Linked DNA regions of Homo sapiens: region 2 is linked to region 1. A link means that fine-mapping ties the variant in region 1 to the expression of a gene that starts in the linked region. Tissue or cell type: whole blood. Region 1 holds a variant in brackets; the other region holds the start of a gene. All regions are shown on one strand. Distances are between the middles of the regions.

Region 1 (8,217 bases):
ACACATGCACACACACACACACACAGACAACAGCTTGAATGTGGCAATTTTTAAATAGCACATTATGTTTAAGACTTTACAGTTATTAACAGAACCAGAGAATATATCTATCAAACTATCAAAATGCCATTTTAAATTGTAGTGATCCCTTTAATGTCTTCGATGTTTTCTAAGAACCCTTTAATCCCACATGGATGGTGCCACCTGTGCCATCCCCTGAGAACAGTAACTGCTTCCACTCTACAGGACTCTGTGCAGACAGAAGTGAGGCATGAGTTCCTGGGGGTCCTTGGGATGCCCCTGCCCAATTTCCAGCCCCAGATCTCCTCCCAGATGGTGGTAGTCTATAGAACAATATTAATTCATAAGGGTTGGTGCCACTCAAAATCTTTCCCAAAATCTACTCTGGGAGAAGTGCCCACAAAGATCAAGGCCCTTGTCAGAGAGGTGACTGACACAGAAGGAAGTTGCCTTTGAAAGGAGAATAAAAGACATGCCTTTCAACACTGTCTGCAGCAGCTTTGCCAAGACACGACACAAAGTCCAGATCACCTCACCTCTTCCGGAGTGCCTATGCTACCTCACCCTGGCTATTTAACCCAATAGACTTAGAGAGGGCAGCTGATCACAACCACTTCAGGACGACATACTCAGAGTGCTTTTCTGGACCTGCCACCCTAGTGTGATGCTGTCTCTTTGTAACCATCTAATAGCAAGTTGCCTCAAAGGGAACCATTGTGCAAAAGTGTGAAGGGACTGGCTGCTAAAATAATAACCTAGCAGACACGACCACCATGAGGGAAACGGCTTCGCCTACGGTGCATTCACCGTGTGGTATGTGTACTTCTACTCATTGGAACTGAGCTGGTGTTGTCCAGTCATTCTGCTCCTCATAATAAACAAAGAGTGCCAGGGGCTCTCCAGACCCAAAGGGAAGAGCTTGCAAGCTCAGTTCCAATGAGTAGAAGTACACATACCACATGGTGAATGCAAAGTCCCCTGTCCATTAGAAAGGCTGGATCTGAGGACAGTAAGTAAGGGGCTGTCAATATAGGCAAGTGATCCCTCTTTCCCAGTGCTGACTAAGGTGGGGGCAACATCTGCCTTGCATTACATTCATTTTGCTGCTGAGAAACTGACACCCAAACCGTTTACACCACAGCACATCAGCGGCGACACCAAGACTCACGTTTGGTCTCCTAATACCATGTTCATTTTTCCATGTGATTTTCCCATCTTAAACCTATTTATACTTCAGTCTAGATGAGCCCATGTTTATAGAATCCTTTTGAGGGCTTGAATAAATGAAAACCTAGAAAGGTGGAGTATGTTTTCCTGTAGAATCACTGGCTATCTGTGGGAAGAAGAGATATTCTTTAACACTTTTTTTTTTTCCCTCAGACAGGGTCTCGCTTTGTCACTTAGGCCAGAGTGCAGTGACATGGTCATAGCTCGCTGCAGCCTCAAACTCCTAGACTCAAGCGATTTTCCTGCCTCAACCTCCTGAGTAGCTAGGAATACAGCTGTGTGCCACCATGTCCAGATAATTTTTGCATATTTTTTCTTTTGAGAGACAGAGTCTCACTATGTTCGTTACTCCTGGCCTCAAGTGATTCTCCCACCTCAGCCTCCCAAAGCACTGAGATTACAGGCATGAGCCATTACACCCAGCCTCATCACCACATTTCCAACCTTAGGATCAACTGTTGAAAAACTAATAATACCCCTTCTTTGATCTTACAGTTCTTACAGGCTGAATGAATTCCATTTAGCAGCAAAATATCTTAATGGTTTCACATGAGAATGTTGAAATAAATGAAACAAACACAGAAGGCCTAGGAGGAGAAAGCCTCTCCCGGTTGGCCAAGGAACGACCTGATCTCCAGGTTACGTGAAGCAAAATGCTTAGAACTAAGCCAGAGACATTGGGACACTTAGCCATTCCCACCGCCTTCTTCTCTCCCTTGTCTCATGGAGGTCCTTGAAATAAGGAGGGAATGGAGTGGGGACAGAAGGGATAAATTGCTTCATTCTAAGCCCACAATGCAATTCCTGGTGCTACTGTACTTGGAATACTGCACTCAGGAGTTTCCATGATCAGCCTCCCTAAGACAGCAGAAAAATTCCATAAACAGGGAATGGCAGCAACATCTCGCTCTATGTGGATGCCTGGGTCAGACTGGGTTAGACTGGCTGGTGGATTGCTGACATAAGTGAATTACTTGGCGCAAACCTTGTATCACAAATGGCCCGTAGTGATGCGTATTGCAAGAGATTTATGTAAATTGAGCAAGATACTTAGCTATTGGTCTGGTTTTTTAGTAGACTTGACTTTCAGAAAAGAAAGAGCTGATGGTAGAAATCTCAGGCACTTTTTTAAACATCTTTTCTTTCTCAATCTACCTCCGAAAGTCGCTTTCCATAAAGCCTCCCTCTCAATGTCCCAGTAACTCTGCCCAAGGAAGGAGCCTCCCCTGTGCCTGACTCCTTGCAGGAACTGTTGCCATTCTTTAATTTGGCAGCTTCTGTTTCCCAGGCTCCCGGGGTTTTACGTTTACTTGCAGCGAGGCTTTTTACTTCACTTCCTGTTCTTTCTCCTGCTATCCCCTTAGAAAGCCGGTGGAAGGATTTTATTTTTATTCTTATATCTATGGTCTCCATTCTGAGATTTTATCCTCCTGGTAACAGCCAGAGAGAAAAACACTTACGAGCACATTGGAAATGTCTAGGAAAGGGGAAGTGCATTAAATAATAAACCCCAAACTGGTGGGAAGGATTTTGCACTGTCTACTCCCGAGGCAAGGAATTCTGGGAGATGTTTTCTCGTTTGGCTACCTTTGTCCAGTCTCCATTCCTGGATACCTACAAAGGTGAGAGCAAGACTAAACGCATTCCAAAAAGCAATTTCATGTGATATTTGTTTTCACTTTTCTTTAGAAAAACTATGGGGCCTTTTGTTCACTTGAGACCACAGTAAGGTTACTGTGTCTACCTTTAGGGAGTTCAACTTTCCAGGGAGGGAAACTAGACAATGTGACAGGCGCAATCCTAGCATCTGTTCGTAACAGGGCATAGGAAGGCAAATGCTTGTCCTTCCTTCCTGTAACACAGCCATTAAACCAGGAGCATCGCCCTTCCCCGGCCCTCAGGTAAGAGGACCAAATACCGTAGCCGTTTCCAATTTCAGTCCTTTAGCGCCACCTGGTGCTAACTACTCTATCACGCTTTTATCCAATAACTACCTTTGTAAATTTCCTTTCAAAAGTTCTGGCCGGGCGCGGTGGCTCACGCTTGTAATCCCAGCACTTTGTGAGGGGTCAGGAGTTCGAGACCAGCTTGACCAACATGGTGAAACCCTGTCTCTACTAAAAATACAAAAATTAGCCGGGTGTGGTGGCGCGCGCCTGTAATCCCAGCTATTCAGGAGGCTGAGGCAGGAGAATTACTTGAACCCAGAAGGCAGAGGTTGCAGTGAGCCGAGATCATGCCGCTGCACTCCAGCCTGGGTGACAGAGCAAGACTTTGTCTCAAAAAAAAAAAAAAAAAAAAGTCCTAACGACACAAATGTTTGATTTTAACACAGTGCCAAGTTCACATACGTAGGCAAAGTCCAGATTAAAGGACAATTTTAGCATTGAGTTCATTTAGTGAATCACAGGGCCTTGGCACACAGCAAACATGAGAGCAATCTTAGTTATCTCTATTGTCATGGCTGTTGTTACCAAAAGAATTCAAAAGAGGGGAATTTAGGAAAATTTATAGTGTTTAAGATATAGTAGCTTTTTCAAAATATCAATGAAGTGCCGTTTATGCGGCACAAGTAATATTTCCTTGAAAATCTAATAAATATAGTGTTACTTATTAAAGAGATTCTACCTTGAGTAATTAAACTGCTTGAAGAAAGGCAAGATTTCTCAACTTGAACTTTATCCATAACTCAGGGTTAACCAATATGCCCAGTTTGTTTCTTTTTATATTTTAGAATATTCCTGCCAGACATGGTGGCTCACGCCTGTAATCCCAGCACTTTGGGAGGCCAAGGCAGGCGGATCATGAGGTCAGGAGTTCGAGACCAGCCTGGCCAACATGGTGAAACCCCTTCTCTATTAAAAATACAAAAATTAGCAGGGCGTGGTAGGGCGCGCCTGTAATCCCAGCTACTCTGGAGGCTGAAGCAGGAGAATCACTTGCACCCGGAGGCAGAGGTTGCAGTGAGCCGAGATCATGCCACTGCACTCCAGCCTAGGTGACAGAGCAAGACTCTGTCTCAAAAAAAAAGAATATTCCTATAAGACAGTCAATGCCCATCCTTCCCTGAGAAAACACAATAAATAATATAACTTTTTATTGTTTCGTAATTATCT[A/G]GGTGCCTTGAAGTTATCATTCTGAAAATAAAAGTATATAGTCTGAAGGGCTGCACCTATTCGAGATGTATTTGTTTTATCATTATACTTGTTCCTAAAATTAAATGAGCGAAATGTTTCTAAATTAAAGCCAAACTATGCTACACAGGAATGGACTTTGTAAGTGAATCCATATTTGTAAATTCTCACACATAATCAGTCCCAGGAACTCCAGGCCTGAGAGAAATTACTGAAGGCTCTGATCTGAGCTAACCACTGTGAAAATAGGAAAAACTCGAAAAATAGGTTCTAGAGTGGTGTGTAGTTCCAAATGGAGCAGGAAAACTAAGAGGGGATTGGTTAAACAAATATGATTATAATCAAAATAACTTTTTAAGCACTTACTATTTGCCCAGCATTGTCCTCAATGATTCACATGTGTCACTTCGTTTAATCTTCACAACTTCATGAGGCTGTTACAATGCCTGATCCTTGCTGCAAATTAGCTCATACACGGTTAGTAAACAAGGGAGTGATGTTTATAACACATCTTGTAGTTCATATTTGATTCTTCCCAGTACATTAATGTTTTAAAATGATCTCATGGCCAGGCGCAGTGTCTCATGCCTGTAATCCCAGCATTTTGGGAGGTTGAGGCGGGTGGATCACCTGAGGTCAGGAGTTCAAGACCAGCCTGGCCAACATGGTGAAACCCCGTCTCTACTTAAAAAAAAAAAATTAGCCAGGTGTGCTGGTGGACGCCTGTAATCCCAGCCACTTGAGAGGCTGAGGCAGGATGAGGCAGGAGAATTGCCGGAACCCAGGAGGCGGAGGTTGTAGTGAGCCGAGATTGCGCCACCGCACTCCAGCCTGGGCAACAAGAGCAAAACTCCATCTCAGAAAAAAAAAAGAAAAAAAAAAGATCTCACAAGTTTTCTCACAATGAAAGAAGAAGAGGCATGATAATAAATGAAGACTTAAAAAAAATTAAAAGTGCATCGAAGTACTTTTTCTTAGTGCAAGTGAAGGCTGGTTTAAAGACTTCAAGAACCACTAGGTCATGGCCAGGCATGGTGGCTCATGCCTGTAATCCCAGCATTTTGGGAGGCTGAGGCGGGCAGATCACTTGAGCCCAGGAGTTTGAGACCAGCCTGGCCAACATGGCAAGACCCTGTCTCTACTAAAAATACAAAAATTAGCTTGGGGTGGTGGTGCACACCTGTGGTCTTAGCTCTTCGGGAGGCTTAGGTGGGAGGATGGCTTGAGCCCAGCAGATCGAGGCTGCAGTGAACTCTGATGATGTCACTCCAGCCTAGGTGACAGTAAAACCCTGTTTCAAAAAAAAAAAGAAGGAAGGGAAGGGAGGGAAGGGAAGGGATGGGGAGGAAGAAAGAAAGAAAAGAAAAGAGAAAGGGGGGGACGGAGGGAGGGAGGCAGGAAGGAAAAGAGAACCACTGAGTTTTCTGTTATGTATATCCATTTGGCAAAGCTACAAGTGTTGATGAAAAAGCTGTGAAAAAGTTAGCTTCCGTATTAAAGTGGTAGATTAGTGATGATTAGAAGCATGCCCTCCAGCACCTTCAACTGAGGCACAAGCCCAGTGGTGAAGGCTGCAAACGGTTGATTGCCTGAGATTCCAGCTGCCAATTCCTGCATAGAACCGTGCAAGTACTTTCATCAGGAGTGTTACTGTTTCTGTGAGTACTCTGATTACACAGTTCCACAGGTTTCGTGTGGTTTTCCCAGCACTATTTTTCCCATTGGTCCTGTTATTTTTAGTGCATGATGTTTTTATAATTAAAAAATAATAATTTTTTTTAATTATACTTTAAGTTCTAGGGTACATGTGCACAACGTACAGGTTTGTTACATAGGTATACATGTGCCATGTTAGTTTGCTGCAGCCATTAACTCGTCATTTACATTGGGTATTTCTCCTAATGCTATCCCTCCCCCAGCCCCCCACCACATGACAGGCCCTGGTGTGTGATGTTCCCCTCCCTTGTGTCCAAGTGTTCTTGTTCAATTCCCACCAATGAGTGAGAACATGCAGTGTTTGGTTTTCTGTCCTCGTGATAGTTTGCTCAGAATAATGGTTTCCAGCTTCATCCGTGTCCCTGCAAAGGACATGAACTCATCCTTTTTTATGGCTGCATAGTATTCTATGGTGTATATGTGCCACATTTTCTTAATCCAGTACATCATTGATGGGCATTTGGGTTGGTTCCAAGTCTTTGCTATTGTGAACAGTGCCGCAATAAACATATGTGTGCATGTGTCTTTATAGCAGCATGATTTATAATCTTTTGGGTATATACCCAGTAATGGGATCACTGGGTCAAATGATATTTCTAGTTCTAGATCCTTGAGGAATCGCCACACTGTCTTCCACAACAGTTGAACTAATTTACACTCCCACCAACAGTGTAAAAGCGTTCCTATTTCTCCACATCCTCTCCAGCATCTGTTGTTTCCTGACTTTTTAATGATCGCCATTCTAACTGGTGTAAGATGGGACCTCATTGTGGTTTTGATTTGCATTTCTCTGATGACCCGTGATGATGAACATTTTTTCATGTGTCTTTTGGCTGCGTAAATGTCTTCTTTTGAGTAGTGTCTGTTCATATCCTTTGCCCACTTTTTGATGGGGTTGTTTTTTTCTTGAAAACTTGTTTAAGGCAGAACACATTTTTTTCAGGGATGAATAGATGTTATATGATGTTATATATAACAGAAATGTATGTCATCATCCCCATTTTACAGCTAAGAAAACAGGCACCAAGAATTAAGTGATCTTTCTAATGCTACACAGCAATTAAATAATGAAACCATAATTTTAATACACTTTGCCTTCAGATTCTGCCTTCTGATGGACTAATATGATATTTTAAATGAATATTAACATATCTGGAAGTTTTTAAATGTGTCCACAAATGCTTTGACTCTTCTCCCTTCAAAAGGTAGATCCACTTCCTAACATTGGCCTTAGCCATGATTTCCTGGATATGACCCCAAAAGCACAGGCAAGAAATGGAAAAATAGAACAAGTGGACTATATCAAATTTAAAAGCTTCTGCACAGCAAAGGAAACAATCAACAGAGTGAAAAGGCAACACACAGAATAAGAGAAAATATTGGCAAGCCATGTTTTTGATAAAGTGTTAATATCTGAAATACATATATATGGGACTTCTTCAGCTCAAGAAAAAAACCAAATAACTCAATTTAAAAATGAGCAAAGGACTTCTATAGATATTTCCCCCCAAAGAACCCATATAAGTGGCCAACAGGTATGTGAAAAGATGCTCAACATCACGAATCATCAGAAAAATGCAAATCTAAACCACAATGAGATATTACTTTATAACTATTGGTATGGTTTGGCTGTGTCCCCACCTAAATCTCATCCTGAATTGTAATCTCCATAATCCCCAAGTGTTGAGGGAAGTACCAGGTAGAAAGTGATTGGATCAGGGGGATGGTTTCCTCCATGCTGTTCTCATGGTACTGAGTGAGTTGTCACAAGATCTGATGGTTTTATGAGGCACTTTCCCCTGCTCTTGCTACTACTCTCTTTCCTGCTACATGTGAAGAAGGTCTCTGTTTCCCCTTCGCTTTCCATCATGATTGTAAGTTTCCTGAGGCCTCCTGGCCATGCAGAATTATAAGTCAATTAAACCTCTTTTCTTTATAAATTACCCAGTCTCTAACAGTTCTTTATAGCAGTGTGAAAATGAACTAATATACCTGTTAAGATAGCCATTATTTAAAGAAAGAAAAAGAAAAAGAAAACAGCAAGTGTTGGTGAGGATGTAGAGAAATTGGAACCCTTGTACATTATGGGCAGAATATAAAATGACACAGCTCCTATAAA
Region 2 (8,217 bases), 610 kb before region 1:
GGGGTTTTTTTGTTGTTGTTGTTTGTTTTTGAGATGGAGTCTCCCTCTTGTCACCCAGGCTGGAGTGCAATGGCACAATCTCGGCTCACTGCAACCTCTGCCTCCTGGGTTCAAGTGATTCTCCTGCCTCAGCCTCCCGAGTAGCTGGGATTACAGGCGCCCACCACCATGCCTGACTAATTTTTTTGTATTTTTAGTAGTGACGGGGTTTCACCATGTTGGCCCGTCTGGTCTCGAACTCCTGACCTCAGGTGATCCACCCGCCTCAGCCTCCCGAAGTGCTGGGATTACAGGCATGAGCCACCGCACGCAGCCCTATTTTCTCCATTTTTATACACTTTTAGCTTTAAAAAAATGGTATAATAAAGCCCTACTACCGTCATCAGATTTCAATGGCTTCCTACTGTGAAATGCAAAAACAAATCAGAGAAAAGCCTAACCATTTTTAATCTATAAAGGATAAGATTAGGTACAATTACTTACTTTCTTTTAAAAAAAAGAACTGAACAATTTGTGAATGTGTCTTTCAGCCATTTACAACAGACTGCTGGGTTTTTTTTTGTTTGTTTTTCGTTTTTTTTTTAAACAGGGTCTTGCTCTGTTGCCCAGACTGAAGTGCAGTGGCACGATCATGGCTCACTGCTGCCCCGACCCTCTTGACTCAAGCAATCCTCCCACCTCAGCCTCCCGAGTAGCTGGGACTACACACCACCATGCCTGGCTAATTTTTGTAATTTTTGTAGAGATAGGGTTTTGCTATGTTGCCCAGGCTCGTCTCGAACTCCTGGGCTCAAACAATCGCCCCACCTTGGCCTCCCAAAGTGCTGGGATTACAGGTATGGGCCATTGTGCCTGGTCCACGACTAGTCTTTTTAAGATACTGACACCACTGGAGAGGAGAATGCCCACTCCAACTACATATTGGCTGTTAAAGCATCAAAGTGGAATGGTGGCTTGAGGGAAAATCATTAAAATGGAAAGGGCTAATTCTACTTCATAAAGTAAAAAAACTATTTAGATTTAGGTTCTTACATATATTTTAAAAAGGTAGGGTATTCTAGTGAAAAGTCATGAGCTATGGAGACAGAGGACTGGAGATTTATTATATTATAGATATAAGCCTGAGCACGTTACTCAAGTTGCCTGAATTTCAATTTGTTTATCAGTAAAAGTCAATCATTTAACACAAATTTATTAAGTAACAAGCAATATTCTAGGTATTGGACATACAGCAGTGAACAAATCCTTGTCAGGATGTTCCAAGCTCTGTGGTAAGAGGTACACAGAAATATACAGGGAAAAAAAAAAAAACAAATTTTATAATACAGTATGTCAAACGGTGATGCACATTATAGGGAAAAATAATGCAGGAAGGTTTCAAAGCATGGTCAGGGAAGGTCGCAATGAAAAAGAACACTTGGACAAAGACATGAAGGAAATGAGGAAGCCTGTAAATATCAGGGTTCCTCAAAAAGGAACAGCATGAGCAAAGAGGCCCTGAGATAGGAACCTGCCTGGCTTTTTGAAGACTAAGAGAGCCAGTACAGCTGATGCAGAGTCACAGAAGGGAAGGAGAGTAGTGGGAAAAATGAGGTCAAGAAAAGGTGGCTAAGGGCAGCTGGGTCAAGGTCCTGTGGGACAACCAGGCTACCGTAATGGCTGTGGCTTTTCCTCTGAATAAGATTAGAAGCCCCTGGAAAGTCTAGAATATCAGAGGTGTTTCACCCATGTATGAGAGTAAACATTTACCTCATAGAATTCTTTTGGGAAGACCAAATGCAATATGGAAGGGTTTTTAAAACTAGAAAATAATGTACAAATGTGAAACATTATTATATCCCTAATTTTGTATGTGTCATTTTTATATCAGACAACTTTGTTAAATTCTTCTTCTGCACTAAACAGTGGTAAATATTTCATAGGTTTTTTTCAATGGAAGAAAAAACAATGGTTTTTCTAGGAGCAACTCTCTCCATTTCTATTCCACTATATCTAAGAACATATGAAACTCAGTTTTTTGCTTTCAAATCAAACCATAAAACAAACATTTCAACATGAAATAAAGATGCACAATGTGAAAAACAATCTCACCCTTATTCAAAGGAGCAATGGCAGTCATGAAATGATATGTTCTTAATGAGTGTTTTCCTTTGAACTGCTAGAATGGAAATAGGAGTCTCTAGTGTTAGATAAGAGACTTTGTTATCTTGTTATCACAAGGACCAGCCAAACCAAATTTCTACCTAGTCAAACGTCTCAATTATTGGCATATATAAAATATATACAGAACAAATTTTCACTATGAAGTAAAAACAAATGAAGTATGTTGAAAATAGTAAAAATTATTGAACTAGGTAAATGACTCTTATGATACTAAACAGCCCATCATCAAGTCACTGTTTAGAGACAATGACTGCAACTGACAGCCCTGTTAACTTGTGAAGAAAAACAGTATCCAACTGAAATAACACTGGAAATGGAAACTTAAGTTATCTCCCCCAAGTTCTAGCCTCTTTTTTGGTCTGCTTCTCTTTTTTGTCTTTTTTATTTTACTTCGTCATTTCATAAAATGTGTGATTACCACTACTGCTATATGAAAATAATTCATATTCCCATCACCAATTTCTACCCTAAACTTCAGTGCCACGTTGCCAGTTGTTGACTGGATACTACCAGCAACAAATAATCCCATTTAATTTTTACTAAGCCCAACAGTTCTAAGTACTCTAACTTTGTGTATAAACTCCTCTCTCCATCTTAAACCACCCTCTGAGGACGGCCTTATTATTACCCCCATCTCACACTGGAAAGTTAAATAAGTAGCTCAAAGTAGCACATTGGGTAAGAAAAGGAACCAGCACTTGGACCCCAGGCATTTTTGCTCCAGAACGGATGCATTTAATCCCTGCTGCACCGCAACAGTGCTCCAGCTCTGTACCTAACTCCAATAGATACAAAACAAAACTCATCGTCTACTCTCTCCTAGTTCTTATTGTCCTACTTCAAGTGGAAAGCAACTTAAATTTCAGTCACCCGGCCTCTCTTCCTCCTCCCACAGGCAGTCAGTCCCTGAGGTAGCCGGGCCTGCCTTCATGCCAAAATTTCCCTGGGCAAAGGCCACAGGGATGGGGCCCGAGGAAAGGCAGCCCGAACGCGGGGGTGTGTCAGAGCGCTTTCCCTAGGTGCCCTCCCGGGGCTGGCATCCTCTCTGCTCCCCGAAACCAACTTTCGCCATCCCACCCCGCCCTGCCGCGGACCTGCCTTGCGCTATTCCAGCAGCTCCGCACCTCCACCCACTCCACTCCACCCTCCCCAAACAGCCCACCCTAGTCTCTATATCCCTGTGCCCTCAACTACCACCTGCACCCTTTACCTGCTCCTCTGCTTCCGCCATGGCGCCACGGGAGAGTCACCTGACAGACCCGGAAATAAGAGGAAACCACACACTTGGCCCAGGGCCTTCTGGGAAATGTAGTTTTAGCTTCATCTGAGCCTGGAAATCTCTTCTAGGGGACGGACCTGCTAGGGTTCATTTCTGCTGCCAATTCTCCAAACTCAATGGAATTCTGCTTTGAAGGATGTGAACATAACCATTGCTAATACTATAGCTTATTTTATTGTTGTTCTTGTTTCTCTAGTTATTCTAGTGTTTATTAAGCACTTACTATGTCATGCCCTGGGTTTATAGCTTTGCATAAATTATCTCATTTAATCCTCACAGCAATTCCTACTATCATCCCCATTTATAGGGGAGAATACCGTAGCTCAGAGGTCATGCAGCTAGTAAGAGGCAGAACTAGTAATAGAATTCAGCCCTGCCTGATGCCAAAGTCTCTGTGATTGCCAAATGCTGCTTACTCTAAAAGTGTTCTTGTCCTTTTTTCTCTCTCTTTTTTAAGTATATTCAGTGAATATAAAGCAGTCTTTGCAGTGGAGAGTCAGAGAAAATTTATACGCCAACAAATAATATCATTATTTTTGCTTGCTACTTTGTCTTCTCCTGTCATATGAACATTGATTTAAAAAAAATCTCTGTTGTTTAATAAATTAATTGTTAAACTTTTGTTGAGGATATTCAATAGGTAAATGTTCAAGTGAAGACACAATATGAAGTTGTCCTTGGTCAAAATCTGCACAACCACTGTATTACTTCCAGCCTTCAGAATGACTGATTCCTTCTCCATGTTTCTGAACATTATGAATTCTGTTTCTTAACCCTCAGGAATCTGCAGCACCTTGTCCAAAGACAGACATTTTACAATTTCCATTCACTGGAGTAGCTGGTGACCAGCAGAGGGCATTGCAAATGGCAGCATGTGGTGATTGCCTCAGTACCTTTTTTGACTCCCTGTGCCTCATTGACTCTGACCCAGTAGGAAGTCATGGACTCAGTACTCTGTCTGTAGCTTGCTCAACCCATGATTCCTCAATGGCCCAGAAGCCAAGGTGACATCATCTCTGAGACACCTGTCTTCTCCCCAGGGCCTAAACAGCCTTACCTCCATCTTCTTCCTCCAAGCCTTGCTGGGGTTCCTCTTCCAGTGGGCTAATCACTCAGCCGACAGGATAGACCACCCTGAGGCATTTAAATGTCTATAAGCAGCCAGGTGCAGTGGCTTTCACCTGTAATCCCAGCACTTTGGGAGGCCAAGGCAGTCAGATTTCATGAGCTCAAGAGTTTGAGACCATCCTGGACAACATGGCAAAACCCTGTCTCTACAAAAAATACCAAAAATTAGCCGGGCATAATGGTGTGCGCCTGTAGTTCCAGCTACTCAGGAGGCTGAGGTGGGGGTTAAGGCTGCAGTGAGCATTGATGGTGCCACTGCACTCCAGCCTGGGCAACAGAGTGAGACCCTATCTGAAAAAAAAGAAAAAAGAAAAAAGAAATCCATAAGCAAGCACCCAATGCCCTAAGTATAAACCTAGGGCAAGTATAAACCTAACCCAAGAGTTTCTAAAATCTCTTGCAAAGCAGCCCAGGGCCAAACATTGCTCATGATGAACTCCAGATCCCAGAAAAACTTTAATACAGACCAAAGAGACTGTGGAAGCCCTCAGTCGAGTATCCACGGGAAAGAGAAATAAAATGAGCTCTTCCACTTTTCTGACTTTCCTCACAAACTCCAATTTTCTCTTTTCTGTTATGAGTGACAGCCACCCATAAACCTCTAGGACTACAGCCTCTCCAACTGGGCAATCTCCTCTTCTATGCTGAATGGATGAGATTGGGATGAAGAAGGAAAATAAGGGATTATTACCACTGTCTTAACCACAAGGTCATTTTTGTTTTATGGTTCCATTTTATTTTGGTGAGAAGTCAAGCAGCCCAAGCAAGCAAAGCTGAAGGCCATCCACTCTGGGCCTTCCTGGCCTTTCTACTTTTCTGGAATGAGAATGTTTATTCTCTTTCTCAAGAAGGGTGTTATGGGTCTTATTAAAGATATAGCCAGACTTTATAGGTTTTCCTCTGCTCATTTAACCGTAGAAACTCTCAATTCCCCAAGTTTGTTCCGCATTCAGTATACTCTCTTGATTACAATAAAGTATTATGAGCCTCTTTCCTTTTGGAGAGACTGGAAAAGTGAAGAGACACAGGTATGGAAAGGTGAATTAGAGGAAGAAACCTACTATGAACTAGCAGGTTCGTGCTGGGACAGTGGACAGGATGAAATTCACATGTGACCTCCAAATCCCATTTGCTCATGTGAAGTGAGAGTTTGAGGCTCTCTTATCTAGGTGGTCTTGTATTCTCCAACTACTCTAAGTGTAGTCCAAAGACTACCTGGGAGCTTGTTAAAAATGAAGAATTTGGGGCCCTTTGAGAGATGTATTTAACCACAATCTGGATTTTAATAGTATCCCTCAGTCATATGCATATACTTTCAAGTTTGAGGAGTAGTCAGCCTAACAGTCACTGATTCTGTGTCAAATCACCTGCTCAGTCCACCCTCTCCCAACTTCAAGATACGGAGGTAAAGGGCTGGGCGCAGTGACTCACGCCTGTAATCCCAGCACTTTGGGAGGCCAAGGCGGGCGGATCCCCTGAGGTCAAGAGATCGAGACCATCCTGGTCAACATAGTGAAACCCCGTCTCTACTAAAAATACAAAAATTAGCCAGGCGTGGTGGTGTGCGCCTGTAATCCCAGCTACTCGGGAGGCTGAGGCAGGAGAATCGCTTGAACTCGGGAGGCGGAGGTTGCAGTGAGCCAAGATCACACTACTACACTACAGCCTGGTGACAGAGCAAGACTCTGTCTCAAAAAACAAAAACAAAAACAAAAACTAAAACTAAAACAAAAATGCAGATGGAGGTAAAGGTAAGATTCAACTTCTCATTCTCAGTCTATAGGACCTAAAATTGTTAATAGACTTCAGAAAACAGACCTAAGACCTTATATTTGTAGAGTGGCTCACTGGTTTCAAGGATCTGTCTCATATGTTTGTTTCGTAGGTCTGAAACAGTTTACTAACTCAAATTATAGCCATTTTATTCGTGACAATAGCATTATTTCATTGCTTAAACAATATGAACGGCTTTAATATTTTCCATTATTAAATAGCATTTATAAATTCAGGAAACTTGAAAAATCGGCAAAGTGGACAAAGTTAAAATAATTCACTCTTATGCCCTTGCTAATTAGGGGATGTGTTGTAGATTCTTTTCCCAATCTTCAGCTTCCATTCCTTCTTAGATTGCTACCTTTCTCAATCTACAGGTGTGACAGCTAATGACAAGCAAATTTACACCACATTACACTACTAATTCCAAGCTACAATCTTAGCCTTTATTTAATTAACTGTACCAAATAGCTAAAAGAATATTGATGTTATCTTTAGCAAATTTGGCCAGCCTCAGCTTATTTTGCAGTTTAGTTTTTCCAAAACTGTACCTACTGAAACCTGTTACCTTCTAATATTCTAAATGTCATTTTAAGATATAGCTTATTGGAAATTTCCCTGAGCAACCACATTAGATTTTCTTAATAACATTTTTCTAATTACAAAAGTACTATGTGTTCATAATAGATAACTGGAAAAATACAATAAATTATAAAATAAAATTCTAAAACCACTCATGATTTCTCCACTTAGATTATGATTGTTGGATATATGCCTTTCTTTTTTCTTCTCTTTTTTCTCTCTCTTCCTCCTTTCCCCTCTCTGTCTCTCTGTATTTATTTAAAAACTTGTCCAACAAAGATCATATTACCAAGTTTTGTCATTTTTTTTTACTTAGTCATATTTCAAGATTGTTTCCCAATAACAATCTTGTAAAATATTCTTCTAAAACATGATTTTAATAAAACATGATTTCACATTATAATTCCATCGTATGAAAAGTAATGTATATAATCATTCTATTTTGTTGTATACTTTAAGTACATCTAATTAACATCCCTGTGCATAATTCTGGAAAATGCTATAATGCAAGGTGGTATCAACTGCAGGAATAAAGATCATCCAAATGAGAAATGCCATTGAGGAGTTATTCAGAGCTTACTCTAGAAAGGGAGTCAGCCACCAGCACTTGCGCTGTGGCAGAGACTCAAACACAGGCACAAGAGTGGGAAGGTAGGAAAAGGGAAGGCTTCAGGTAGGCCCTGGTTGGAGGCTGCTGGCATGAGAAAGCTGCAGGTGGGGTAACCAGAAGTGGGGCAACCTATGTGATTGGTAGGGGTGGATATTTGGTTTTCTCTGGTTGCTCTTAGTTGGAAGTGGGAGTAAAAATTAAGGAAGTTGTCAACTACCAATAAAGTCCTGGTCATTTTAGGCTGATTGTTTCAGAGGTTATAGTTAAGGTTCCTGGATTGTTACTAGAGATGGCAGTTTTGACTGTCAGGCTAGATTCCTGGGTTTTCTATTGTGGACAATGGCTTGGTTTCCTGGGCAATTGCTGCAGCTTGCTTCAGACTGTGGGTCAGAGTTCTATTTTAATATCTGGTCTGGCCAGTGCCCCTTTATATATTCAGTCTCTCACAATTTATTCTACAGTGAGCTATATATGAGAGCTCTAAACCCTCCTACCATCAAACATTAGATATTATCATTTTTTACACATTTCATTAATTTAGCTTGGGGAAAATAGTATTAATATTTTAATTTTTGTTTTAACTGTATGTCTTTGATTTCTGATGAGGGGATGTTTTTCATAAATTTACTGGCCATTTTCAACTTTGTTCTGTCCTTTCTACTCTTGCTCTTTACCCATCTTT

What was found. PIP is the estimated chance that this variant, and not a neighbour inherited with it, causes the effect.
Region 2: it holds the start of VPS41, and the variant in region 1 is fine-mapped to the expression of VPS41 in whole blood (INTERVAL, PIP 0.94).

The regions. Positions count from the first base shown.
Region 1 is chr7:39,516,899-39,525,115 of GRCh38, forward strand. It overlaps LOC105375237 (a long non-coding RNA gene), which reads right to left and starts at 5,604. Exons shown (of 4, transcript XR_927183.2): 1 at 5,563-5,604; 2 at 4,749-4,838. The variant A/G (reference allele first, on the strand shown) is at 4,365.
Region 2 is chr7:38,905,781-38,913,997 of GRCh38, forward strand. VPS41 (VPS41 subunit of HOPS complex) reads right to left here and starts at 3,411. Exons shown (of 29, transcript NM_014396.4): 1 at 3,374-3,411. The coding sequence starts at 3,394. RefSeq lists an enhancer at 3,419-3,518.